Linked DNA regions of Homo sapiens. The protein of the gene in region 1 purifies or fractionates together with the protein of each later gene. This does not show direct contact. Each region holds a gene or a part of one and is shown in the gene's direction. Other genes may lie near its edges.

Region 1 (6,406 bases):
CACTGGATATGCAGTGATGAATGAGATAACTTAGGTTTGCCCTCATAGAACTTATATTCTAGTGAGTTTTATGCTGTATGTCATTTACCCCTCCCAAGAATCACAGGAAACCAGAATTACTGTCACCGGTTTACAGATGAGGCCACTGAGGCTCAGAGAAGTTAAGGAACTTGCCCTGGTCCCAAGAGAAAAAGTGGAGGAGCCTGGATTTAAACACAGTTCTGTCCAAAGCCTGTGAACCAACAGCCTGTGCTCTGAGAAAGCAAGTGGAGAAAAGGCATTAGACACAGCCATAAGAAGGCTTTGGGGGGAATAGTTGGAGTCAAGGGGAAGTGATAGAAGACAGATTTCAAAGGTCTAAGGAGGGAGTGGGTGGAGATTGATGGAAGGCGGAGAGTTTAGAGATTGTATTTGACCAGAAAGGGAGGCAGAGGGACTCCTTGGAGATTGTATTTGACCAGAAAGGGAGGCAGAGGGACTCCTTGAAGACTGGGAATCTAGTGCCTGCTTGCAGGCAGAGGGCAAGTGCCTGAGCCTTGAGAAAGTACAGACTTGACCTTGAGAGAGTAGTTGAAATTTTGTTGCCTTCTAGGTGGTCAGCTGTAGACAGACCTTCTCCTGGGAACTGTAGGGCCTGAAATTCCCAAGGTCTTTGAGGTCGGAGCAACCTGAGGCCTCTGAGGCCAAAGCATCTGCGATTTGAGGGTGTTCCCTAGCTGGTGATTTCCATATACAAGGACATTTCGGTACCCCAAGCAGCCAGTCTAGAACCAATTGGTCTGCCCCATACCCAGCGGCTCCAGGAAGGCATCTGAAAACATGGAGCAGGAAGCTCCGTGGCTATTGCGTGTTATCCCCTAGCACACCAGCCAGCCGTGGAGTGACTCTTTGCAATTACAAACCAGCAGCTGAGTAGACGCAGTTTAAAAGTACGTTGTAAAAGTTTTATGGTTAGTGAAGATAAGTGCAAAATTAATCCCTACAGAACAAAGCAATTTAAAAAGTACATAATGAAGTGATTAGCTAGAAATGGTGGGGAGCAGAAGGAGAGTGCCCAAGAACAATTTTACTCAGGAATGGTCTTCACACTTTGGTTTTTTCAATTGCATTCAATGAGGGAGCTGTATAAAAGAGAGATTAATAACATGCACAAACGAGGTAACAATTGATGAAGGATTTGGGGAGTCAACCTGAAGGAAATTTTTACCTTCTTAAAAAGTTTGGATGAAGGGGAAAAATAGCTATAAAGGCTTTGATTGGGACAATTGGTGAACTTTGATTATAGACTGGGGATTTGATAATAGTCATGTATCAATGTTTAATTTCCTGAATTTTGGAAAAAAGCAAAAACAAAAGCCAAAGAAACCTGGAAGCTCACAATGTATGTTAAAGCTCCCCAGAGTCATTTTCTGTCTCCCTTTTGTTTCCATTTTTGTTCTTTGTTCTTCTTTAGCTGAGTCTGCATGCTGGTCGGTATCAGACCCTGGAAGGTAGCTTCTTGGCCACCATTACATTGTTATTCTAGTTTTCCTGGAAGAGACCACCAAGCAAGGCCAGAATCATTTCCTCAGAAGAACTGCCACAAACTGAGCAAGGGTTCCTTCTCCTCCTCCTCTGACACTGCTGTGGTTTTCCTTGGACAAGATCCGATATTCATAAATCTGAAGTTGCAGAAGGAGGGGTCAGGGGCATCTCCAAATACAAATGTTCTTGGCTTTGTAAAGCAATGCAAAGGGCAGGGTACCTGTGAGCACATTTTTTTCTAGTGCTGTAGGTGCTGGTATCCAGAAATTACCCTTACACACAAGTTTTTCTATAAAGTTTGGTATCCAGAAATTACCCCTGCACACAAGTTTTTCTATAAAACAAAGCCTACCTGTATACAAAGTCAGTCCTGAAAATAAAGAGTTAACCCCTGGTGTAAATGGCCCAGGAACACCATTCACTCCTTTAGGTCTTGCCTCTCTCTCTTTCTGTCTGTCTAGTTTGGGAAAGTTCAAGAGACAGGGCTCTGGTCTCTGGAGCACTGAATGGTGGGGTGCTCTGTTTTATTCCTCAGGCCTGCTTCAAATGCTGCACATCAGGAGGTGAGGGTCTTGATGACTTGCTTAATTTTCACCACACTAGGATTGTAGTAATATAGAGAAATCATGGACTAGGGGAGGGAAAAGATTAGTAAGACCATGATTTTAAGACAGATACTTATTTGGGATTTCAGTGTTTCTAAAATCAGGTTGGACCTTATACATTTGGCATATATAAATAAATAATAAATATGTAAATAAATTTTAATTTACTGTCCAAACTAGAAGCTTTTGCGAGTGAAAGGGGGTGCTACTAATAACAGTGGAACACTAGGTATAAACCAGAATAGTCCCCAGCAAACCAGAACATATGGTCATTCTACTGAGAATTTTTTGTGCATGTTTAATCACCTCCTTAAATGCCCCATCTCCAATATAGTCACATGGGGAGTTACAGCCTCAGCATATGAATTTGAGGAAGGGGGAGACAATTCAGTCCATAGGGAGTGCTGTAACAGAAAAAACACAGTGTAAGTATCAGAAAGTCAGGGATTTTTTATATTTTGTTCTGTGGTAAGATTCCCATCTCCTACAACAAAGACTGGCACATAGTAAGTGCTCAGTAAATAATTGCTGAACTGCATTAAAGCAGAGGAGGGACATGCTCTGATGTATAATTTTAAAAAGTGGATTGGAGGGCAATACGGATTGAAGGGCAACACGACAACGCAGAAAGACCAGGGAAGAGGCTCTGGATGGAGATGCCCACACAAAAATAATAGGGACTTGGACCAGGATGTTGGCTGTGCAGATGGAGAGAAGTGATTAAATTCAAGCTATATTTAGGAGGTAGAACTGTCTGCTTTTGCCGATGTATTGGATGTGGAGAGGGAGGAAGAAGACATTGCTACAGATGAATTACAGGTTACAGGCTTCGGCTATTAGATGGATGAGGGGCAGACTAAGGGACAGATGGGGAGGCAGGGAAGAAAATCGGGAACTTCGTTTTGGACATGGTAAGGTTGAGATGCCTGAGACACATGAGAGTGAAGGTGAGACGTAGGCACTTGGGTATATAAATCTTGAGCTCAGAGGAATGTAGTGTGTTTTCCCCTGTCCCGAAAAGCTGTGGTATAGCAATAGTGAATCTTATCATCAGTGGAATATTATAGTGATAATAATTATAGCTGATACTTAGGGGCCTCTAAACTTCTTCCAGGTGATGAAATAAACTGTCTCTGTGTATTACTTCATTTAATTCTCACAGCAACTATCTTTGGAATTTATCACTTTTATCTCCATTTCATAGACAAGGAAACTGAGTGTTGGAAGGTGAAGTGAATTGCCTAAAGTCACCAGTTCAGCAAATGGGAAATGTAGGACTTGACACCAAGACTGTTTGGCCCCAGAGGCTATGCTCTGAACCATAATGACTTCCTGTCTTCCAAAAGGCAGGCTCTTGGATCCATATCTTACTGTGCTTCTAAATTATCCTGTGACCCTGAACCTTAGTTTGCTCACCTGGGAAATGAAGGGAGGTCCTGGTTAGGTTCCCTTCAGTTCTACTCTATTGCAGTATGCTGATCTCTTTTGTAAATCTGTATTAAATGAGAGTTTGCTATCGGTGACTTTCAGAGATGACACCAGTGATGATGCCCATGCTGACGATTCATTCTGATGTCTATGAAAAGAGCAAATCCTTTAAGAGAAGATGTAGCATACCAGTGTTTATAATCTGAGTTTCATTTGATTAAGAGGGGAAGCTCTTTAGAACAAATATCATTTCTGAGCGAGAGAATGTTCAGCATCTCAGCCTCATTTGTATCATTTGATAAAAGGGCCCCACTGAGCCAAGTGTGAGGATGATGCTTGAGCCAGACACATAGACACCAGACATTCCTCTGATGTCTGCTCCCCAGGCTTGGCCACATTGCCTCCCACCAACCCCATCTCAATGACACATCCATTACCTGCCATCAGTTGGCTCTATGGTGCTGGGAATGACAGAGTGTATCTACCCTGGATTTCAGAAAGAACCCTCCTGGCTTATCATGGCAACACCCTTTGGACACTCGTTTAAAGAGTCCTTCTTTGGGCCAGTGTTATCCTTTTGGGGGCATCTGGTATGGACGGCCAATTTGAATCTGACTGGGACATGCTAATGAGCCATTCATATGTGTGGGATTTGTTTCTGATTCGATTAAGCTTCAGAGAGAGGAAAGAAACAGCCACTGATTAGAGACATAAAAAAAGAAATACTTTAAGTGAGTAAGTGGTTCATCTTCATATAGGAAAGTATAAATTAAACATGGTCCAGGAGATGTGCTTTGAATAGCAGCTGGATAGCACAAGCATGTCCACAAGGAGACGGTGCCTCACAGCAATTGAAAGGGACTTAACCCCCAAAAAGGGCTCTGAATATGCTGAGTAAATAGATGAGCCCAGTTAGCTGATAAAAATGACTCTCAGATTAGAGATGGGAAGGTTTTTATTTGGATTTTAGAAAATTGCTCCCCACTCCATCGCCGCCATATTGTCTGTGTGAGCAGAAGGGAGAGCGGCCACAGCCGCTGCCGCTTCCACCACAGTGTGAAGAAAACAGGTCTGAAACAAGGTCTTACCCCCAAGCTGCTTCTGAACACAGTGACTGCCAGATCTCCAAACATCAAGTCCAGCTTTGTCCGCCAACCTGTCTGACATGTCGGGACCCGTGCCAAGCAGGGCCAGAGTTTACACAGATGTTAATACACACAGACCTCGAGAATACTGGGATTACGAGTCACATGTGGTGGAATGGGGAAATCAAGATGACTACCAGCTGGTTCGAAAATTAGGCCGAGGTAAATACAGTGAAGTATTTGAAGCCATCAACATCACAAATAATGAAAAAGTTGTTGTTAAAATTCTCAAGCCAGTAAAAAAGAAGAAAATTAAGCGTGAAATAAAGATTTTGGAGAATTTGAGAGGAGGTCCCAACATCATCACACTGGCAGACATTGTAAAAGACCCTGTGTCACGAACCCCCGCCTTGGTTTTTGAACACGTAAACAACACAGACTTCAAGCAATTGTACCAGACGTTAACAGACTATGATATTCGATTTTACATGTATGAGATTCTGAAGGCCCTGGATTATTGTCACAGCATGGGAATTATGCACAGAGATGTCAAGCCCCATAATGTCATGATTGATCATGAGCACAGAAAGCTACGACTAATAGACTGGGGTTTGGCTGAGTTTTATCATCCTGGCCAAGAATATAATGTCCGAGTTGCTTCCCGATACTTCAAAGGTCCTGAGCTACTTGTAGACTATCAGATGTACGATTATAGTTTGGATATGTGGAGATTGGGTTGTATGCTGGCAAGTATGATCTTTCGGAAGGAGCCATTTTTCCATGGACGTGACAATTATGATCAGTTGGTGAGGATAGCCAAGTTTCTGGGGACAGAAGATTTATATGGCTATATTGACAAATACAACATTGAATTAGATCCACGTTTCAATGATATCTTGGGCAGACACTCTCGAAAGCGATGGGAACGCTTTGTCCACAGTGAAAATCAGCACCTTGTCAGCCCTGAGGCCTTGGATTTCCTGGACAAACTGCTGCGATATGACCACCAGTCACGGCTTACTGCAAGAGAGGCCATGGAGCACCCCTATTTCTACACTGTTGTGAAGGACCAGGCTCGAATGGGTTCATCTAGCATGCCAGGGGGCAGTACGCCCGTCAGCAGCGCCAATGTGATGTCAGGGATTTCTTCAGTGCCAACTCCTTCACCCCTTGGACCTCTGGCAGGCTCACCAGTGATTGCTGCTGCCAACCCCCTTGGGATGCCTGTTCCAGCTGCCACTGGCGCTCAGCAGTAACGGCCCTATCTGTCTCCTGATGCCTGAGCAGAGGTGGGGGAGTCCACCCCCTCCTTGATGCAGCTTGCGCCTGGCGGGGAGGGGTGAAACACTTCAGAAGCAACGTGTCTGAACCGTTGCTTGTGGATTTATAGTAGTTCAGTCATAAAAAAAAATTATAATAGGCTGAAAAAAAAAAAAAAGAAAATTGCTCCCCAAATCCCTATGACATTTAAGCTCATTGTCATTCTCTGGCAGCACCAGTGACAGTAATGGGGGCCAGAGATCCTATTTCAAAACAAAGAAGTGATTACAGTAGATAGCGCAGGTGTCAATGGGACCCTGATTTGGAACTTGCTAATACTTCTGTCTCTGAGTTTGGGGCTTCTATAGGGTTTTGGTTCCATAGATATGCCTGGACTTGAACTAGCTTACCTTCCCAGCCTTGTGCATCGGGAAGCTGTGAGGGTCAGATCCTTCTAGATTTTGTGTCCCCTTACAAGGGTTGGAAGAGTCTGGCTGCAGCCCT
Region 2 (7,075 bases), on another chromosome or scaffold:
TTTCCTAGTTCAGTGCCTCTGCCTAGAAGGGCCATCTTTCATCGAACAAACGACTGCTACACCTATAGAAGCCGTTACCAATGTCTCTGCTCAGACAGACCCTTTAAGAAGCAGATTAAATGCCACCTCCTCTGTGAAGTCTTCCAGAATCCCTCAAGCCCAGTTAACTGCAGGCTCTCCTGGAACGCTCTACTCTCGTCATGGCTGCCCTCACACTGTGCTGAAAAGCGTCGTTTGCGAGTGTCTCCCTGGCCAGGGCGTGGGCCTCCAGGACGGGAGTGGGGCTCGCATCGCTGGCTCTTCCTCCTCAGATGCAACCCACTCTGGCCATGAACATGCTGGGTTCTCTCCCACCTCCTGCCCTGAATTCCCCTCAAACAGGATGTTAACTGGAAGCCCCTAGGGAAGGAAGAGGCAGGGGATGAGAGGCTACAATAAAAGCCAAATCTCCTACTATGACCTACCTGAGTGGGCCCCTGCCTATTTCCCCAACCTTATCTACAATCCTCCTATAATAACAAGCAAATGGGTATCATGCGTTCTGACAAAACACTACGTCCTAAAACGTGGCTGGCTGCCACATGCCAATCCCTGCCTCAGACCAATGTGCTTTTTTTTTTTTTTGAGACGGAGTCTTGCTCTGTTGCCCAGGCTGGAGTGCAGTGGCGTAATCTCGGCTCACTGCAAGCTCCGCCTCCCGGGTTCACACCATTCTTCTGCCTCAGCCTCCTGAGTAGCTGGGACTACAGGCGCCCGCCACCACACCCAGCTAATTTTATGTATTTTTAGTAGAGACGGGGTTTCACCATGTTAGCCAGGACGGTCTCGATCTCCTGACCTCGTGATCTGCCTGCCTCGGCCTCCCAAAGTGCTGGGATTACAAGCGTGAGCCACCGTGCCCGGCCCAGACCAATGTTTAAAGGCACCACGGAGAGAGGTGATTCTACGTGACATGGCTTACGAGGGCCTCACCCAGGAAGAGGCCCACAAATGCCTACCTTAGGGCTTTTTCAAACTGTGGGTCTCAAGCCATTAGTGGGTCATGAAATCAATTTATTGGTTTGCAACCAGCATTAAAAGAAGGGGAAAAAAGCAGTCTAAAAAGTGTCAGGATGAATTGGATACAGTGATCTTAAAAATGTTTCGTTAAACTTTGTTTTGTTTAACATGTGGGGCCCTGGTTATGATGTAAAATATAGTTAACTGCAGACAATATTCAAATAAAAGGACGAAAACAGTGTTCTCTCTCTTTCATGCCTCTGCTCTTCAACCAAGCCTGACCTGTTCTTACCTCAGGGTAGCTGCATTTATATTATTCTGCCGGGACAGCTCTAGCCCACTTCTTCACAAGATTGGTTTTTGTTTTTTTTTTTTTTTTGAGATGGAGTCTGGCTCTGTTGCCCAGGCTGGACTGCAGTAGTGCAATCTCAGCTCACTGCAAGCTCCACCTCCCAGGTTCACGCCATTCTTCTGCCTCAGCCTCCCGAGTAACTGGGACTACAGGTGCCCACCAACATCCCCGGCTAACTTTTTGTATTTTTAGTAGAGACAGGGTTTCACTGTGTTAGCCAGGATGGGGTTTCTTTCTTTTGAGACAGTCTTGCTCTGTCACCCAGGCTGGAGCACAGCGGTGCTATCATGGCTCACTGCAGCCTTGACCTTTCAGGCAAGGGATCCTCCTGGTTCTGCCTCCCAAGTAGCTGGGACCACATGTATACACCACTATACATGGCTAATTTTTTTTTAATTGAGATGGGGTCTCACTATGTTGCCCAGGATGGAAGGCTGGTTTCTTCTCTGGTCCCAACTCAAATGTCACTCTGTGAAAGGCCTTTCTTGAGTACTCCATTCAGAGGTTGCCTGCTGCCTGCTTGTGTGGTCTGCAAGCTAAGAAGGGCGTTTTTTTTTTTTTTTGAGACGGAGTCTCGCCCTGTCACCCAGGCTGGAATGCAGTGGCAGCGATCTCGGCTCACTGCAACCTCTGCCTCCAGGGTTCAAATGATTCTCCTGCCTCAGCCTCCCCAGTAGCTGGGATTACAGGTGCACGCCACCACACCCGACTAATTTTTGTATCTTTAGTAGAGACGAGGTTTCACCATGTTGGTCAGGCTGGTCTTGAACTCCCGACCTTGTGATCCGCCCACCTCGGCCTCCCAAAGTGTTGGGATTACAGGCGTGGGCCACTGCACCTGGCCAAGAATGGCTTTTAAGCTTTTAAACGGTTGGAAAAAAAAAAAACTAAAGAAAAATTTTTCATATGGAAAAATATGAAATTCAAATTTCAGTGCCTATAAAGTTTTATAGAAACATAGCCATACTCATGTATTTGCCTATGGGGTACGGCTGCTACTACAATGGCAGAGTTCAGTAGGTGCTTCAAAGATTGTATGTTGCAAAAAGCTTACTTACCATCTGGCCCTTTGCAGAAACAATTCATCAACCCCTGTTCTACTATAATCATTACCGCATAACTGTTTTCATTACCTTCAAGTCCTTCCTATGACCTAAAATTCTAGTCTATTGTCTTCATTTACTTATTCTTCCCAACTAGAATATAAATTACAAGAGGCCAAGGGCTTTGCCTATCTCTGCCTCTGCTGTATCCCCTGTGCCAAGCACAGTGCCTGAAACACAATAGGTGCTCAGTAAGTGCCTGAATGAAAGAACGGTGGAGGTGGAAGGCAAGCAACTAGGCTTAAGGACCACTGGGGGCTGCATCAGCCACCACTGCCTAAAAGGCGGGGGCCCAGGAAGCTTGCTAAGTACCAGGAACCATGCTCTCCACCAATTTTTGAAGACCTTGCTCACCCGAAGAGTCTTCATCCACGTTCTCGTACTGCAGAAGTCGGTCTAGGAGGAAACTGAGGGGAGGGAAGGAGACACGGACAGTGATTTTCCAGCGCAGCAATGTCCTCCTGGGTACCTGTCCCTCCCAGCTGGCCCATCGGATACTTGAAAGAGCCCATGCACTTGTGGCCCTACTCGGGGATGGGGTCCGAATGTAGATTTCCTAGGAAGCACATCGCCCTCCGCCCCTGCAACGTGCCTCACCTCTTGTCCCGGGACACCTTCAGTAATTTCCTTTGCGCTTTCCTCAGCTCCTCCTGGAAGCACTCGTGCTCCTGTATCACGGGCAAGGGGTGCGCTGGGCCAACGGTCCTCCGTGAAGGGCCCCGGAACCAGCGGCCGCTCGCCCCACCCACTTTACACCTGGGTAAACTGAGATCTTGTCCGCGCCAGGCCTCATCCCCCACAGCCTTCCCGCGGCAGCACTCACGTAGATGAGGAACTTGAGCTTCCGCTTCAGATTCCGGTATTTTTTTTTGTAGTCCACTTCGCCGTCCGCCGGCCCGTTCATGACCGGCCCGGGAGTGGCGCCCAGAGTCTGCCCTCCCGCTACCCCAAGCAGTGGCTGCCGTGCCGCTCCCGCCTCCACTTCCGGAGACGCTGCAAGGCTGTGCCGTCAGGACTACAACTCCCGGCGTACCCCGCGCTCAGGGGCGTCACCGCACGGGCCGACCTCCCGGGGGACACTGGGACAGGAGCGCGGCAGCCACTGCGCTGGGGATGGCGTAGCAGCGACGCGGTGACGCCACAAAAATGGCGGACGCTGGAAAGCGCCGTTCCTGACTCTAATGTACTTAGACACTTGAAGCCACAAAAGGATTTATCCCCGAGGTTCCTCATCTGCTCGCGAGGATGCCTTTTCTCTTCTGCCTTGCGAAATAACAGCAGCCTAGCTGTTGCCCGTGACCAGTGAGAAAGGCAGCGTCGCGGGCTGATTAGGTTTCACCCAAAGGGTGCCGGCGCCGAATTGGTTTCTAACGAGAACTTTTAAAATGATCCGTTCCAAAAAAGGGTAGGAGCCGCGAGACCCTCCAACTGCCCAGAGAAAACAAGTCTCGTCTGGCAAAGTTCTCGGCCCACGCGGTCCGCGGCCAAGGGCCAACGGTCCCTCGCCCCACGTTGCCGCAGCACTGCGCGTGCGCGAGCCGCTGTCAAACGCGCTGACGGAGGCCGAGAAGAAAAAAAGGCGGGAGCCGTCAATCCCGGGTTGAGCAAAATGGCGCGGGAGAAGGAGATGCAGGAGTTCACCCGTAGCTTCTTCCGAGGCCGCCCGGACCTCAGGTGCCCAGGGGGTTGGAGATGGGGTTGGAAAGGGCGCGGGTGGGTCGGGACTCCGTCCTGACACCATGTCCCTGCAGCACGCTTACGCATTCCATCGTGCGGCGGAGGTACTTAGCTCACTCGGGCCGCAGCCACCTGGAGCCCGAGGAGAAGCAGGCACTGAAGCGGCTGGTGGAGGAGGAGCTGCTGAAGATGCAGGTGTGCCGGGCCGGAGCCTGGGCCGCGGGAGGCGGAGGCGGGGCTTGCTGCTGAGGAGGAGGGGCCTGACGGGGCGCGGTGAGCGCAGCCTTGGTGCATAGTTTGCCCTCTTGGCGCACACACAGGTGGATGAAGCCGCTTCCAGGGAAGACAAACTGGACCTTACCAAGAAGGGCAAGAGGCCTCCCACCCCTTGTAGCGACCCGGAGAGAAAAAGGTTCCGCTTCAATTCAGAGTCGGGTTAGTGCTTCCTCCCTGCTGTGGGGGCCTTCTGCATCGTTGGTTCACTCAAGAAGCATTCACTGCGCATCTCTTATGTCCCCAGGCGTTAGATGAGGGAGCAAGGCTAGTGAGTCAGGAACCGGGAACAGCAAGTACAGATAGCTGTTTCCTGCTGCCCCTCCAACTGTCAGGGCAGGGCTCGAGGCAACCTATCCGAAGTGAAGGGAGAAGGGACAGGAGGAGCCTGTCTCAACCCTCTCTCCTCTCCATATTCCAGAGTCCGGCTCTGAAGCCTCCAGCCCAGACTACTTTGGACCCCCAGCAAAGAATGGGGTGGCAGCAGAAGTCAGCCCAGCCAAAGAGGAGAATCCAAGGCGAGCCTCAAAGGCAGTTGAGGAGAGCAGTGATGAGGAACGGCAGAGGGACCTGCCCGCACAGAGGGGAGAGGAGAGCAGTGAGGAGGAGGAAAAGGGGTACAAGGGGAAGACTAGGAAGAAACCTGTGGTAAAGAAGCAGGCACCAGGCAAGGCCTCAGTCAGTAGGAAGCAGGCCAGGGAAGAAAGTGAGGAGAGCGAGGCAGAACCCGTTCAGAGGACAGCAAAGAAGGTGGAGGGAAATAAAGGAACTAAAAGCCTGAAGGAAAGTGAACAGGAGAGTGAAGAGGAGATCCTAGCCCAGAAGAAAGAGCAGAGAGAGGAGGAAGTGGAGGAGGAAGAGAAAGAAGAGGATGAGGAAAAGGGGGATTGGAAACCCAGAACCAGGAGCAATGGCCGGAGAAAGTCAGCTAGGGAGGAGAGGAGCTGTAAGCAGAAAAGCCAGGCAAAGAGGCTCTTGGGAGACTCAGACAGCGAGGAAGAGCAGAAAGAGGCAGCCAGCAGTGGGGATGACAGTGGGAGAGATAGAGAACCCCCAGTGCAGAGGAAGAGTGAGGACAGGACCCAGCTTAAGGGTGGGAAGAGGTTGAGTGGAAGCAGCGAGGACGAGGAAGACAGTGGGAAGGGGGAACCCACAGCTAAAGGCTCTAGAAAGATGGCCAGACTGGGCAGCACCAGTGGTGAGGAAAGTGACTTGGAGAGGGAGGTAAGTGACAGCGAGGCAGGGGGAGGCCCCCAGGGGGAGAGGAAGAACCGCTCTTCCAAGAAGAGCTCCAGGAAAGGCAGGACACGAAGCTCCTCTTCCTCCTCAGATGGAAGTCCAGAGGCCAAAGGAGGGAAGGTGAGGGTGAGGAGGGGTGGGAGGCCACTATTAGGGAAGAGGGAGACCCTGCCTCAGGCCCAGCAGGCTTGGCCTTCAGCTGCTCTTTCCTTGCTAGGCTGGCTCAGGTCGCCGTGGAGAGGACCACCCGGCTGTGATGAGGCTGAAGCGCTACATTCGGGCCTGTGGTGCCCATCGAAACTACAAGAAGCTGTTGGGCTCCTGTTGCTCACACAAGGAGCGCCTGAGTATCCTCCGGGCAGAACTGGAAGCGCTAGGCATGAAGGGTGAGGCCCGGCGTGCCCTGGGGGCTGCAGGAGAGGGCCTTCCTGCTGGGGAGGAGAGAATCACCAGCTTCTTCTGCCCCAGGTACCCCTTCCCTAGGGAAGTGTCGGGCCCTGAAGGAGCAGAGGGAGGAGGCAGCTGAGGTGGCCTCCTTGGATGTTGCGAACATCATCAGTGGCTCGGGTAAGGGGTTTCCTCTCACTGCCCAGGAGCAGATAGGTGGGGTTGGACCTTCTCAGACATCTGATCTCTCGTTTCCCCTTTCCCCTAGGCCGGCCACGCAGACGTACAGCCTGGAACCCTTTAGGAGAAGCAGCACCCCCAGGGGAGCTGTACCGACGGACCCTGGACTCAGATGAAGAGCGGCCCCGTCCCGCACCCCCAGACTGGTCACATATGCGTGGCATCATCAGCAGTGATGGCGAGAGTAACTGAGCTCTGCCACCCCCAGGAGGGACCCTTGATACATGTACAAAGCATACATAGCACCCCTTGCCCTGTGTCTGTGGAACAGAAGCAGCTTCCTTCAGAGAAGACTGCAGCTCCCAAGGACACAAGCTGTTGGGATGCTACTTCTCAGCTTCACGCTGTCCCTTTAAGGTGTTTATTTTTTAAGACTCAATAAAGGAGTGTTTTTAATCACCTCATCAAATTTGGTCCCCCATTCTCACCTCCTGTATTTTGGGCCAGGAAACTGAGCAGTAGTCACTGCCTCCACCTCCTCCCCTGGCCTGGTTCCCTTTAATTTCCCCCGGGTTCCTGGAAGAAGTCCCTGCCTCCAGACCCTGTCATCCAACAGCCACCAGACCCTTTTGGAGAAGGGTGTGTGGCTCCTGTGCTGCCCGCCTACCCCGTGGCCCCTCTGCTTTTAGCCTAGTCTGATAACCTAATGCCCACTTGGGAGAGGGATAGAATGACTTGAGGGCAGCCAGTGCTTAAGCCTTCTCCCTTATGCAAACAGCCACTTTGTCCATGGGCTGTTAGCCTCAAAGGGGTGGGGAAAAGCCCATACCTCCTGGGCCAGTCCTAGCCCTCTAGGCCTCTGGCT
Region 3 (7,024 bases), about 110 Mb from region 1:
TTGACTAGTTGAGTGTTTAAATGAAACTATGAAGAGACACAGATGAAGCCACCCCTTCATGCAGTGAGCTGTGATTGCGCCACTGCATTCCAGCCTGGATGACAGAGCAAGACCCTGTTTCAATTAAAAAAAAAAAAAGTTCCCACTCAGATGCAGTTGGATGTTGAGAAACTGTCTCCAAGCCAGAGAAAGAGATGTAGGAGAAAACGCACCGACACACACACATAATGTTTCCCCCAGGATTAATTTTTATGTGTGTGTGTGTGTGTGTGTGTGTGTGTGTATGATTGACATGGGTGTATTTAAATATATACATATATTGGCCTTGACTCTAGCCCAAACAAATGGCTGCATAAGAAAATTGAGTGGATTTATTATTTAGAGTTTCTTCTCTTCTGAGAGTCTGTACCCCTAGTATCACTCCTGATAACTTATTTGAGCTGTGGTCCTCTGCCTTCACTTGCCATCAGTAATAGTAAAATGATTATGTGTTTTAGTCTCTACTGGCAGGTTTGAGTTTTCAGTTCACAGCTGCTGTCATTTTTAAGTAAGACACAGGGTCATTCATATGCTTCGCAAATGCCCTCACAAATAATTGTAAGAATTGGGCCTGCCGAGGAGAGTCTGCTAACTGTGCTTGTCCTGATCGTGGTTGGCCAAGCCAAGCCAGGTGGCGCTGGTCAGAGAAGTCTGCAGAGAGCAAGCAAAGGGTGGAGCAGGGCAGTATATGGTTTGGCAGAGAGGCAGATGTGTCCCAGGCAGGGTGAATGTTGTCCCAGGCAGGGTGGATGTTGCACATAAAGGCCAGAGATAGGAGGGGGAGGTCCAGGAGAGAAGGAGGTGATACCTCCCTCAGGCACTATGAGGTCCAGCATAGAGAGCTGCGGCCCCCAACTCTGCCAGCCTAGAGTCAGGGCCCCAAATCTGCCATTCCAGGCACTTCTCCTTAGTCAGAAAGCTGGAATCCTAGCTCATTGTACTCTGCCAGCTGCCTGCTTCTTAAACCATACCTGAAACTGTGGGCTTGGGAGCTCTCAAATTATTATTATTATTATTATTGTTATTTTTACTCCCAATGGAATATTGTTCAATTTTTATTTTTTATATTTTTAAATTTTTTTATTATACTTTAAGTTTTAGGGTACATGTGCACAACGTGCAGGTTAGTTCTATGTGTATACATGTGCCATGTTGGTGTGCTGCACCCAAATTCTTTAGGAAGTCTATCGGTGCAAACATTTTTGAAATGGGATTTTTTTTTTTAAAGATAATGATTGCTTCTGTTTTTCTTCATGCCCTTGCCCTCCTTTCCACACACTTATCCCTGCCACCTTCTCCCCTTCCTCCCAGTCTGAGACTCATTCATGGTCTCTGCCTCTGATCTTAGTTCTTTGACATCCCTTTGCCTCTCTCTGGAGACTCTGAACCCAATGAGAACAAACTTTTCTTAGAACAGTGTTTTTTTGGGAGGACACATAGGCACCCGGTGAAATAAGAAAACACTGGAACTAATGCATAGAACTGCAGGCAAACAGATTCCACCTCAGGTTGGGTAGTCACACGCTTAGGTGAGATGACCTGTAAGGTTCCTAAAACTGTGGGAACGTAAGACTCTACCCATAGGAACTGTCCAGCTATGGAATGGGCCACCTTTGAGGTCGAACCTCATTCTTGGAAGTGATCCAGTAGGGTCTGTAAGGCCACAGTTAATACAAGAGGAGATTTCTGTGCAGTGTGGTGGGGCACCGGGTCAGGGGACCTCTGGGCATTCATTCAGAGTGCTAATCAGAAGCTCTGGGATCCCCTTGGCCCCAGAGTCACATGGGTTTATGCCACTCAGTGCTGGACCTTTTCCATAAGAGCAAAAGGTGAGACAGTTACCATCCTCTGGGAGCCAGTTGGTCACGTTCTACAAACCTCTGTTGAGGGATTGGGCACTGAAAGGCCAGTTCCTGGCTTTGTTAAAGTCCACATTCCTAGGCAGAAGACTGGTGTCCTGCTGAGACCCCCAAGGCAGATGGGGGTGGTGGCTCGCCTCTCATTCAGCTAAGGAGAGAGGAGTTTCTCCTCTTCTCCAGGGGAACCAGCCCGGCTCAGTGCCTCTGTGCAGAGTCGGGGGACCTGAGGGAGCAAGGCTCAGTCGTTCCTTTTCTCCCCTGAAGCCTCTGTGTCCCAAGGAGCTCTGGCACTTTGTTCACCAGTGCTATGGGAACGAATTGGGCCTGACCAGTGATGACGAGGACTACGTGCCCCCTGACGACGACTTCAACACAATGGGGTGAGTGAGGCCAAGGGCGGCTGCCCAGAGGCAGCCGTGCGAGTGCCTGCAGGAAGAACCTGCCAGGCAGAGGGAACAGCACACATGCCTGTGCAGCCATGGAATGAACTGTGGAATGAAGGAGGGAAAGTGGTCACAGGTGAGGTCAGGGAGCTCGAGGGGGCAGAGCCTAAGGGCCTGGCCATCTTTATGGTTGGCTTTTACTGAGAGTGGGATGGGAAAGTTTGGCAAAGATAATTGCTAAGGTCTGATTTAACATTTCAGCAGGATCACTCTGGTCTTTGCACTGAAAATACATTAAAGGGGAACCAGGGCAGAGGCAGGGAAACCCGTGAAGAGGCTGGTGAGTAATTTAGATAGTTAGATGAGGGATGGTGGTTGTTTGGAGAAGTGGCAATAAGTGTTTAGTTCCTGAATAGATTTTGAAGGATATGTTGATGGAACAGAAAGGAACCAAAGGTGGCTTTCAGATTTTTTCGGTTTTACTGCCCAGAAGGATGGCATTGTTCCAAACGGAGATGGACAGTACTGTAGGCAAAGCAGGTTTCAGGGGAAAGATCAGGAGGGTAGTTTTAGGCAAGTTGAAATTGAGATGCCTGTTAGCTAAATGGAGATGCCAAGTGGGCATTTAGATATGGAGTGTGGAGTGCACAGGGAAGCCTGGGCTGAGGCCATAAACGCAGCAATTATTAGTGGATAGTCATGAGACTAGCTGAAATTTCAAGTGACTCGGTGAACCTAAAAAGGAGTTCAAGGACTGCCTGGGAGCACTCAGTGAGGGAAAGAAGCAGCTGAAGAGAGCTTGAAAGCACATGCAGTGAGGGAGGAAGGCCCTAGGAAGGTTTCCTATCCTGGCAGCCACGGGAAGGAAGTGAAGCAGAAGGTATTGTCACTGTATCACATGCTGTCGATAGGTTAAGCAAGATGGGAAGATGTGCCTGTAGACTGGCACAAAGCATGCTTGAGGGTGGAAGGGTAGCTAGCTGCAAGCTTGGTGGTCGTGCAAGAGGCATACAGGGAAAAAAGCAAGAAAAGAACATTGAATGTCTGTTGTGCTTAGGTCTGGGCTCAGTCGAAATAATAGTGTTGTCGCTTAACCTCTATGAATACCCATTTGGTTATCTCCAAAATGCACATAAGGATTTCCGGAGAGTTGTCAAGCATCTGGATTTGTTAAGTACAGGTCAGATGATGGTGATGATGATAGGCTGATGATTGCTCCCTTAGAGGAGGCTACAGCGGCATCCCTGAAGTGTTCCTCGACGAGCACCCACCTTCATCTCAAGGAGGTTTTCTTTCTAGGTGTATAATGCAGGGAAGTTTTCTAGTTATCATCAAGAATTTGGGCAATGCCACTTAAGGAGCGCTCATGTCCAGAGTCCTGTCTTCGTCACCGTTTGGGAAAGGAAATGCATGCTCAGAACCCAGATATTTGATTCAGAGGCTTCAAATAGGATGGGCACCCATGGAAAAAAAATAGCTTAAGACAAATAATCCTTTCAGTTAGGTAGGGATAACTCTAAGGAGGCTGCCTAGGAAAGGTGAGTTTGCAGCCAGGAATTTTACATGGGGGGCAGGGAGGGGTGGGGTGGGATATGAAGGAGATTTCAGAAGAGCAATGGGGTAGGCAGGGGATTTTTGGTTAGAGGAAGATCATACACAAAGCAAAGAAGCAGGAAATCTCATAGATATGGATGGATAGAAAGGTCTGAGATTCTTAGAATAGTTGGCCATCTTGAACCACTGAGGGTAATGTGGACTCACTGGTGTCTCCTCTCAGATACTGTGAAGAGATCCCTGTGGAAGAGAATGAAGTGAATGACAGCTCATCCAAGAGCAGCATAGAGACCAAGCCAGATGCCAGTCCACAGCTGCCCAAGAAATCCATCACCAACAGCACACTAACATCCACAGGGAGCAGTGAGGCCCCCGTCTCGGTATGGGCAGTCAGCCTTTGACTTCTACCCCCAGTCCTGTGGCCAGCGTTTCCTAGCATAGTTCACTGGGAACCCAATCTGGGGAGCAGGTAGAGAGGAGATTGGTTACATTGTTGTCAGTTTCTTCAAGGAGGCATTCTGGAGCAGATGGGCTCTCCGTATTCTAGTGGCATAGCCCGGGGTCCAGAGCTGGGGCTAGGTGCCTGGGGTACAAGACTGGGTTTGACTTCTGAGCAGATGAAAACCATTTCAAGCCCACTGTGCTGGGCTGCTGCTGATCAGCCCTTCTGGTAGAGAACAATTCCAGGTATTTTTTCACTGCCTTGATCTGACGTCAAAGTCATGCATGAATATAGAACTATAGAACAATTAATTGTTTATCCACTCATTTGGTTGATATTTGTTGAGTATACGTATTGTGGCTTATTTCTCCACTGTGGTAGACTTTATGGAAGCCATAAAAATGTGTAAGAGAACCTCTGTCCTGTGGGACTCTGTTAATAGAGGAGGTAGAACCTTGATGAGGAAAGAGGGTCAGGGCATGTGCTGGCAGGCAGAAGAACAGGTAGGGTTCTTCAGGAAAGGACTCCCTCAAAGAGCCTTGTATTTCAGTAGGCTATGGATCAGACCACCTGCCTTCAGAATGAAAACATTATTCATTGGATACCTGGTCTTTATTTTCCATCTCTGAGGTTATCTTTAAAATGTAAAGAGTTGTATCGATTCCCTTCCAGGGCTAATGAGAGAATGAGTTTTAAAAAATGCTTATGAAGCCTTTCGAGCTTCTTAGGATAAACAGGTACTACCTGGAGGCAGGCTGACCTTGTTGCAGGATGGTGCAGGTGCGGCTCCAGGAAAGGGCCTGGGCCTGTGGGGACCAGCTCTGTGCATTTGGGGAGCTTGTTGTGCTGTTGGAATGGCGAGCGTGAGAAGTGCAGTAGTCCTTGTACTGTGTTTGCCCATCCTCTGTGGCAGCTCTGGGGAAGGGCTTTGGAGCCTGACTCTGACTTCGCTCCTGAGCAGCTGAGCTGGGAGTATGAGAGCTGCCAAGGCTGCATCCCTAATCTCCCTTTGGAGAATAGATCCAGACCAGGTTTCCCTGGTGGGTGACTCCTCTGTCTTGGCTCCAGTTTGATGGGCTGCCCCTGGAGGAAGAGGCGCTGGAGGGAGACGGGTCCCTGGAAAAGGAGCTCGCCATTGACAACATCATGGGGGAGAAGATTGAGATGATCGCTCCTGTGAACTCCCCTTCACTGGACTTCAATGACAATGAGGACATCCCCACTGAGCTCAGTGACTCTTCCGACACACACGATGAAGGTGGGCATTTGAAAATGGGTCTGGAGTGGCCCTTGCTCTGTTTTGAAGGCTAAAAGGAGATCTCTATGTGGGGACTGTAGTTAGTCTCTAGGTTCCTGGTGGAGAGATGGGAGCAGAGCTTCCTTAACAAAAGGTACCTGTTATTAGTTTACATCCCTGTTTTCAGTCATTTGCTGTAGGAGCCTCCCATAGATAATGCTTTGTTCTGTCATTTAGTCTTGTCACTAAATGTTCCCCCTATTGACATTGGCTTGCCTTGCGACCCTGACCCTCACAGACACGCAAGTCTAGGCAATGTTTATAAGCCACAAGGAAGGTGCCAGTCAGCTGCTCCCTGGAAATAATTAGATTTTAACAGAAACGTCCTCAAGATAGCTGCGAAACTTGTTAATGCAATTTTTGCTGCATGGGGTATTTAGGCCCAGCTAGAAGAAAAGGTGTTGCTGGGTCAAATAGGGTTTGGAGACTCCCTTGTTTCTCTAATTTTTGTAAGCAGGTAGCTTCTAACTTCATGCCTGCATAGGATTAGCTTCTAGAACCTCCCTTGGGAACATGCTGCTGCTTACCTTCCATGGAGAGAAGCCAAATTCTCAGCATTCATGAAATCAATTGATGGATTTCCTCCATTGAGTGAGTGGTCTGTTATGACTGGTGAGCATATGAGCACGGTGCTCACTTGTGGATCTGTGGACACCTCTCCCAGGGGCCACCTGCAGTGGTTTTCTAACTTTTGGTTGGTTTACCCACCCCCATCTAGAGTCCAGGGTTGGCACAAGTGACTGCATGGGTTAGATACTGCCTAACTCCAGGGTGCCTTTCACATAAACTAAGGTGTGAATACCCGCTGCGCTGCACTTGTGCAGTACCCATCTGTGCAGTCATAGGACTTGACCCCTACAGGGTACTTCAGAGTTCTCTGGTTTCCTCAGGGTCCTAGGGGTGCCAGAAATGGCAGCCTCCTCCTGAGATCACATACCCACCCATGCAGGTGCAGTAATTAGGGACTGAGGGGTGCCAAGGGTTCGGGGGGGAGCACTGAGGCTTTAGCAGCTCTCCTGTATCCTCATTTGCATCCTCCTGTAGCAGCTGGAAAATTCAGATTACAGGTGAAATTCCCTGGCTGGCAATCTTCTGTATATGGACACAGTGATGTGCCAGAAGGGCTTTGCATCCCTGAGACTGAAGGAAGCTCCATTTTTGGAGCCCTCCCACACCTTGCTCTGTGTGCCTCTCATTCTGATTTGAATTCTTATTTTGCTATATGATGAAGCTGTAATCCTAAGTTTAAAAAGGGGAGTAGGTATTGACATCATGGTAGAAATAGGCTGTCTTATGGAACTGTAGTTAGGGATCACAGCCTATTGGACCAGCCCCAGCCTTAGCAGCAGTTCTGTACACTGATTCTTCCAGATTAGTCTACGTTCCCTCGAACAGACCTATGCCATGGGTTACAACTACAATTTGTTGTCGATTAGAGTTAACTTACAGA
Region 4 (7,849 bases), on another chromosome or scaffold:
TTGCTTCTGCCAGGTTTCTGAGAGCATTATCAGTCAAAAATTCATAATTACGCCTAGGTACAGTGGCTCATGCCTATAATCCCAGCACTTTGGGAGGCGGAGGTGGGCGGATTACCCGAGGTCAGGAGTTCGAGACCAGCCTAGCCAACATGGTGAAACCCCTGTCTCTACTAAAAATAAAAAAATTAGCTGGGCGTGGTGGCACGTGCCTGTAGTCCCAGCTACTCGGGAGGGTGAGGCAGGAGAATTGCTTGAACCTGGGAGGCGGAGGTTGCAGTGAGCTGAGATCATGCCACTGCACTCCAGCCAGGGCGACAGAGAATCCCTGTCTAAAAAAAAAAAAAAAAAAAAATCTTAATTATTAGCCTGAAGTTTTTGGGGACCACCCAGCTAGTATGAATTCAAGCTACGTTTTTGTGTGAGAATTGGATTGCAGTTCCAAATTCTCAGATACGATTTTGCTTTTCCCCTGTCCACCAGGTGCCAAGGTTTAAGACGGCTAATTTTCTTTGTAGATTCTGGGGGATGGGTGCCTATGCTAGTAAGCAGCAAGTTTATTTCTAGTATATCCTTACATCAAATTAATAATCCTTGGAATTGCAGTTGTTTGTGTGTGTGTGTGTGTGTGTGTGTGTGTGTGTGTGTGTATAATGCAGGTAATGGGTTTTGTGTCTTTCTTACAAGGTCACGAAAACCAATGCTCCTAGTAACTGGGTTTAGCACATGCCCTTGAGATAAAAGTTGGCTGACTCTGCTAAACTCTAGGTTCCTGCCTTCATTTAGTTTTTTAACTTAATAATTTCTTACCCTATTGTCAGTTAATCAATATATTTAATAAGATTTAAAAAATGTTTTTTCCAGGGATTTTGTTTTCAGTGTGACAAGTGTGAACTAGTCCTTGATATTTCTAGAAACAGAATCCTATATTCTCTTTATACTTTACTATCCAAATTTTCCTCAAGGGATATTTAAGACAAATAATACTAAACAGAAATATTTAAAATCAGTATGTAAATATCTTACATGCAAACATTTTGCATGCAAATTTACAGATTTTATAAAGACTGCTTCTTAACATAAATTTTAGGTGGATATTTACCAAATAGCTGGTTGACTAGTTTGTAGATGTCTGTTATTTATTTTATTAAATAGACAAATATTATTGTTCCACAGTACATTTAGCCTTTGACTCATGAGTTTGTTGGCTCAAATTCACTTTAGATGATTTGCAAGATTATGCTACGCAACAAACAATCTCAAAAATATTTGTGATTCACAACAACAAATATTTTTGTTTTACTCTTGTTTCACATCAGTAGCCGTATGTCAGGAGCTGCAAGTCAGTTGCTTCAGTTCTGTACAGGGTGAGAGTTTCAGGTCTGCTCCATCTATTTTCTTATTCTGAGATCTTATCTGGAACATACCTTTCTCATGGCAGGTGGCACAAGAGTAAGAGATTGACCTGAATTTTGCAATCAAATTTAAAGCCTCTGCTTTGATTTAGCATTTAACATCTGCTCACAAAGCACTGGCTAAAGCAAATCACATGACCAACAAGAATACAAGTCTTCAAAGCTGTGTTGAATACCTTATTTATGGCTGAGGTTGCTCTTAATCTAAATTCTCTTCCAGAAAATGAGGATTTTAGTCTAGAATCCTGATTAGTAATTGTCAGCAACATAATTGTCTAATGGGATAAGCCAAATGGAAAAAAGCAAACAACCTCAAGCAACATCTCTGTCATTCTAGGTCAGGGTTGAAATATACTGTGGGAAAGGCTGTCAAGCCTGTCAGTGCTTAAACTAATTTGGAAAGAACTTCCCATTCTTAGAAATGTATAATTAATAAAGCAGTAGGCAAAAGAGATGAATTCTCATTGGAGTTAAAATCGGATCGTTATAATAAAAAAGCTTTATTTCAAAATGTCATTCTTAAAATCATTGTAAGAGTAGCAAACTTGCAGGGCATCTCTGGGAGTTACTGAATATTTTTCAGTTACAGTGCAGGATCACATATTAGTTTCTGTTTATGTTGTCATTACATTGAAAATGCTAGATTGAATTATCATTCCTGGAATCACAATATCAGATTTGAAAGGATCTGAAAAAATGATTTTTCAACTGTAGTGGATTAATATATTTTTGTGTTGCAATCAGTTGTTAAGTATGTCAAAATCATTAGTTATTCATGACAAGTAACTATTATACTAGTGATAATCAAAGTAGAGAAGATTGTGAAAGATATACTTACATTTGTTTTGCAATATCTTCACTTTCAATTACTTGCATTAGGACTTTCTTTTTTTTGAGTGGAGCTGAAAGAAGTTAAACGTAGGCTGTCAGTAATTTGCATAATCCTGAGTATACCGTGTCTGTTTGTTTCCAATGTGATTGCCATCCACCGGGAAAAAAAAAAGGTGGTTTAGTATCATTTCTCAAACAGCATGTGGTCCTACTTGATTGGAACTTGAAATGCAGGGAGTAATTTATCTAGTCATACATCTCATTAGCTAAGTCTGTAACCTAGGCTTCCTTGCTTCCAGTACATTGCTTTTTCCAACAAATGATCAAATTTTCAAAAGCCAATGTATGAAATTGGGGCTGAGGCAGAAGAGAATTAGGCAAGGCAATTTGCCACCTTTTTCTAATCTTTAGTCTCAGTTTCCAAAGTAAAATAAAAGTACCAGAAAAACGGGGTCCAGATGGTGTATTTTGCATATTATCTATGCTCTAGGAACATTCTTTTCCAAATCTATTTGATTGCAACTCACAGTAAGAAATTGTTTAAATCACAACATAGGACATACTCTCACCTTCCACCATATTTGAAACAAAAAGTTTCAGGAAGCAATTTTTGCCCTTACTAGACATTATGCACTCTGGTATTTTATATTGTATTACATCCTAGCCTATTTCATATAAAAATGAAATTGATTTTTGAGTTGCAGGTTGAAAAACATGCCTCTAGAAAACAGGAGACAAGTTAATCTGTTAACAAACTCCAAAGTTACTAGCTTTGCTGAAATAATGTCACAGAATAATAAACTTCCTTCACATTTATTTGTACTACAGTCTCTCAGGCTTCAGAACAGAACCTGGTAGAATCTTTTCCTCTTTGGAACACCAGTTCATGACAATATCTCAGAGATTCTAAGACTCGTTGTTTCCCAGTTCATGACAATATCTCAGAGATTCTAAGACTCGTTGTTTCCCAGTTCATGACAATATCTCAGAGATTCTAAGACTCGTTGTTTCTGACATGTTTACATCTCTGAATTCAAGATGTGTCTCAGGCCGGGCGCGGTGGCTCATGCCTGTAATCCCAGCATTTTGGGAGGTCGAGGCGGGTGAATCATTTGAGGTCACGAGTTCAACACCAGCCTTGCCAAAATGGTGAAACCTCCTCTCTACTAAAAATACAAAAATTAGCTGGGCATGGTGGCGCATGCCTGTAATCTCAGCTCCTTGGGAGGCTAAGGGAGGAGAATCGCTTGAACCGGGAGGCGGAAATTGCAGTGGGCCGAGATTGCGCCTCTGCACTCCAGTCTGGGAGACAGAGTGAGACCCTGTCTCAAAAAAAAAAGGAAAAAGATGTGGCTTAAAGGTGCCTTACATATCAGCGGTATGGCATAGTTTCATTGGCAGCCTTTGTTTTCTTTCTTGGGTAACATAAAACAATGTAAGTCTATGATTTTTTTAGAGCTGCTATGAAATATATTAATAATAATTATATAGGCCAAACTCTATTGCTTATTCATTTCAATGTATCCAGCTTATCAGAATGCCTTCTGATTTCTTGTTAAGAAAATGTAATGAGATGAGAATAGCTTAAGAAAAAAATCCTTAGTTCTGGGCTACAAGGGAAAATGAGTTATGACCCCAATTTAATTATTACAGAAAGCTTTCTCATTTGCCTTCATTGTGATCAGGGTTTGAGTATGATCTTTATTCTACCTCCCTTACTTCTGTATAGTTAGGATTTCATTAGGCGGCTAGAGGGTTCTTCGGATCATGGCTAAAAAAGAAAGCAAAAGGTTAAGTCCTAGAGTTAAGGAATTAGGAAAAAAAAATTAAGGCATTAGAAAAAAAATCAAGAATTAGGCTTTATTTTAAAAAATGGAACAAACTGTCAAATTCCTGCGTACCCGTTTAAACTGTCACCAACCTAACACACTGTAAAACTTAATGACTGTAAAACTGGCAGCAGGATCCTGAACATAACAAGGAACAAAAATAAGTTTGCTAGGCTGTTTTCATCCCAGCATGATTGAAATACACCGTTTCCTCAAAAAAAAAAAAACCTCTAATGAGGAAAGCAGTAAATTAAATGCCACGGTTAATGTGCCACTAGAAATAGGAACAAGTAGTTTAGTTACCGAATGCTTCTTAGGCCATACACTCTACACCACGATGCGTTCTTTTTTCTGTTTCGCTAAAGCTTTCACCAAGCCTAAGGCTGGAGAGGGGTCCTAACTGAGCCCTGACCAGACCAGGGAGCCCTACTGTGCAATCTCCTCAGGTTAGGAAGGGCCCAGTATGACCGGCCCAGAAGGCCTGGCCGATCAACAGGCGCTGGGCCGACGGTGGTGGGCTCGCTTCCTGAGGCTGCCCTTGGGCATGCGGAAGGGGACTGGCTGGCGATAACACCCTGGCGAAGCAAGGTGGACAGTGACTCCCGCCCGGTTCGAGCCCGCCTAGCAGGGGAAGCAACTCCACCACCGCCTCCGCGCACCGTCACGTGACGGGAAGAGGGCGTGGCCGAAGCCCGTGATCCGGGGGGCGGGCGGGGCAGGGGGAGGGCACTAGAATGTGAAGGATCTTCGCGGTTCTGGGTGCCCAGAAAGGCGGCGACGCGGCGGATGACAACATTAGGCCGCGACGCGCTCCTGGCCAGGCGGCGGCTGTAGTGTTAGCTTTGGACGCCGCAGTAGCCGCTGCCGGTAGCAAGCCGACTGAGGGAAGGTGGGGGTCCGCCCGGGCTGGTGGACCTCGGGGCCGAAAGTTCCCGCCCCGCTCGGGGGCTGAGCCGGCAGTGCCTCCGCGGCCGCTGGGCAGCGCCCTTCGTCCAGGCTCGCGCCCCAGCTGCCGCCGACGACAGCGGCCGAGAGAAGTTGGGGTCTGACTAGACGCTTACGGGGCCTCGGACCCCGGCGCCGCGGCGACCTCGGAGGAACCGGCTCCTTGCGTCCCGCCTCCCTGGGAGCTCCGCACGGGTGAGTGTTGCTCCATTCCTGAGGTTGGGGTGCTGGGTTCGCACCCCTCAGGGCGACTGCGCACCCTTATTGCCACGTTCTGAGCTCGGGCTGTCGGGGACTCCTGGCCACCCCCGCCGAGGAGTTCTTTGGCTCCTTTGTTCCCTTTTGGAGTAGGGGGATTGGAAAGGCTGGCAGGGTGGAGTGTTTAGGGGCCCACAGTAGGTGCATCTGCAGCCTTACAAAAGCCGCGGCAGGGGAACGGGGGTGGGAGGCTGTTGGAGCATTTCGACCGCCCCGGGTGTCTGTCCCTCCTGAAGTTTGATAGGTTGATGGCATGGGCCTCGTTGGGAGCCCCCGCGCCCAGGAGAGCTGGCGCTTTGTCGCTCGGTGCGGTTAAGGCGAGGCTCCTTCTTTCCTGTGACAGCCCCAGAGAAGGCTGTGCCGCGCACCGCAGACCGCACCCGCCTTTGCAGAGCCAAGCGACACGGTGTTGTTCCTCTAAGCCTCAGTTCTCCCGGCCTTCTTGTAACGTAGGAGGAAAGCCAAGCCTTTGCTGTGCTTTTAAATTTAATGTTTGTTTCTAAGCCCTCTCTCAAGAGTGGAATCAGGTTCCAAGGAGCTTCACAGGCAGCATGCTTTAGGTTCATTGAACCACCCACTCAAGACTGGCTGAGGCGAAGCAACAGTATATGCAGATTTTCCATTCACAAAAGTCATTTAACACTCTTCTTTATGAGACACATCTGCGTTGCAGAACGTAACCTAATTTCATTTTATTTAAATGCTTTCTGAAATAATAGGTAACTTGGACAACGTAAACAGATGGGTAAACTTTAACTGATAATGTAAGTATATATGCATTAAATAAAAAATTTAATGATGTTTTTGCCTTTCTGCTGCTAGAAGACTTAAATGACGTCTGAGTAGTAATACAGTGTCTCCTGCATGGCAGTTAAGTTTTTCCCAAAATTAGTGCTGCTTTTGAAATAATCCTTTAAAACAGTTTTTGCCTCCCTTCGTATCTAGAGAGAGCAAGAATTGTGGAGAATCGTGGGTGAATTGATTGTTAAATTTTGCTAATTTCCTAGAGTTTCATCTAAACTTGATTTTGCTGAGAGGCTATGATCAGTTTCTATGCTTGCTAGAACCTGTTTTGCAGTGAAATTATTAAGATCATGCTAGTTTTATAAAATAGGTTGGAATAGGAAAAGTAAGGCCATGCAATTTAAAACTGTTCTCTATAAAAGTACAACTAATTTCAAATGTTTGTTACTTTTATTTTTTTTTAATATTAACCGTGTATGGAGTGACTATAATATACCTGCTCAAAGGGCTGAGAAAGGAAATAGATGAAACTTAAGCTACCTTTTGGGTCTTTAATTATGGACATCAAGTTATTGCGGTCACATTCCATGTCAACCGTTTGAACAGCAATACCGTGTACACAGGTGCTTAGAAATGCCTGTTTAATTAAAAATGGCCATGGTTTATTTCTCTTTGATTGAATCATAATAGTTATTGAATCTCTGATCTGTGGAAAGATGCTACTGTATTTTCCTTAGAATGTTACTGCATTTTAAAGACAGTCAAATATGTTTTTTATAACACATTCAGGGTACTTATACATTTGTCAATATTCAGTTCCTTGGTTCATTTAAAAATTGGAAGCCTTAGAAAACACTTTGGGGATAAATTTACAATTGTGTATAATGAATTTATGTTTTAGTTTGCTTTAAGAAAAATGATGAAATTATGAATTTGTAAAATATGCATTACAAAAGGATTTTTTTTTTTTTTTTTTTTAAGACTGTCTCACTCTGTATCCCAGGCTGGAGTGCAGTGGTGCAACTTGGCTCACTGCAGCTTCTGCCACCTGGGTTCAAGAGATTCTTATGCTTCAGCCTCCTGAGTAGCTGGGATTACAGGTGCGTGCCACCATGCCAGGCTAATTTTTGTATTTTTATTAGAGATGGGGTTTCACCATGTTGGCCAGGCTGGTCTCCAACTCCTGGCCTCAAGATCCGCCCGCCTCAGCCTCCCAAAGTGCTGGGATTACAGTCATGAGCCACTGTGTCTGGCGGATCTTTTGTTTAAAAGTATGAATTGCAGAATTTTAACCAGTGTTAGTACATTTCAACTTGGCTTTGGTTTGTAAATAATCCTTCAAAAGTAGATTACTTGAATTAAGGCATTAAAGACAAAGAATTGATACAGTACATAGATCTAGTTTTCTAATATTAATTTGGAAAACTTTTATCCTAATATTATCCTAATAACAATGCCTGAAATGTCATGTTGTAATGTTTGTATTATATTGAAAGTTAAAAACATTTATAGCAATGTTCTTGGAGCATCAGGCAATTCAAAGAGGACATAGGTCCTGCCTTAATCTTACAAATAATGACCTGCAAATAAGACAGAAACACAACTTGAATAAAAAAGCCTTTGAGAGGCCAGGCCCGGTGGCTCACGCCTGTAATGCTAGCACTTTGGGAGGCTGAGGTGGGCAGATCATGAGGTCAGAAGTTCAAGACCCGCCTGGCCAACATGGTGAAACCCCGTCTCTACTAAAAATACAAAAAAATTAGCTGGGCGTGGCAGTGTGTGCCTGTAATCCCAGCTACTTGGGAGGCTGAGGCAGGAGAATCGCATGAA

Evidence for each region.
Region 2: the proteins of CSNK2A3 (region 1) and HIRIP3 purify together in Homo sapiens (affinity purification with mass spectrometry; 2 studies listed by BioGRID and IntAct, with this or other methods). This does not show direct contact.
Region 3: the proteins of CSNK2A3 (region 1) and GRAMD1B purify together in Homo sapiens (affinity purification with mass spectrometry; 2 studies listed by BioGRID and IntAct, with this or other methods). This does not show direct contact.
Region 4: the proteins of CSNK2A3 (region 1) and OSBPL8 purify together in Homo sapiens (affinity purification with mass spectrometry; 2 studies listed by BioGRID and IntAct, with this or other methods). This does not show direct contact.

The regions. Positions count from the first base shown.
Region 1 is NC_000011.10:11,351,436-11,357,841, reverse strand, and holds CSNK2A3 (casein kinase II subunit alpha 3), read left to right. Parts: upstream 1-4,591; 5' UTR 4,592-4,722; coding exon 4,723-5,898; 3' UTR 5,899-5,900; downstream 5,901-6,406. UniProt on the Homo sapiens protein: Probable catalytic subunit of a constitutively active serine/threonine-protein kinase complex that phosphorylates a large number of substrates containing acidic residues C-terminal to the phosphorylated serine or threonine.
Region 2 is NC_000016.10:29,992,594-29,999,668, reverse strand, and holds the start of HIRIP3 (HIRA-interacting protein 3), read left to right. Parts: upstream 1-4,051; 5' UTR 4,052-4,063; coding exon 4,064-4,128; intron 4,129-4,205; coding exon 4,206-4,326; intron 4,327-4,451; coding exon 4,452-4,566; intron 4,567-4,825; coding exon 4,826-5,763; intron 5,764-5,860; coding exon 5,861-6,029; intron 6,030-6,111; coding exon 6,112-6,210; intron 6,211-6,298; coding exon 6,299-6,462; 3' UTR 6,463-7,075. Other genes in the region: INO80E (INO80 complex subunit E), read right to left, coding at 2,809-2,861, 3,052-3,122, 3,278-3,358. UniProt on the Homo sapiens protein: Histone chaperone that carries a H2A-H2B histone complex and facilitates its deposition onto chromatin.
Region 3 is NC_000011.10:123,601,264-123,608,287, forward strand, and holds part of GRAMD1B (protein Aster-B), read left to right. Parts: intron 1-2,162; coding exon 2,163-2,278; intron 2,279-4,058; coding exon 4,059-4,215; intron 4,216-5,345; coding exon 5,346-5,535; intron 5,536-7,024. UniProt on the Homo sapiens protein: Cholesterol transporter that mediates non-vesicular transport of cholesterol from the plasma membrane (PM) to the endoplasmic reticulum (ER).
Region 4 is NC_000012.12:76,556,760-76,564,608, reverse strand, and holds the start of OSBPL8 (oxysterol-binding protein-related protein 8), read left to right. Parts: upstream 1-4,837; 5' UTR 4,838-5,212; intron 5,213-5,600; exon of another isoform or gene 5,601-6,037; coding exon of another isoform or gene 6,038-6,039; intron 6,040-7,849. UniProt on the Homo sapiens protein: Lipid transporter involved in lipid countertransport between the endoplasmic reticulum and the plasma membrane: specifically exchanges phosphatidylserine with phosphatidylinositol 4-phosphate (PI4P), delivering phosphatidylserine to the plasma membrane in exchange for PI4P, which is degraded by the SAC1/SACM1L phosphatase in the endoplasmic reticulum.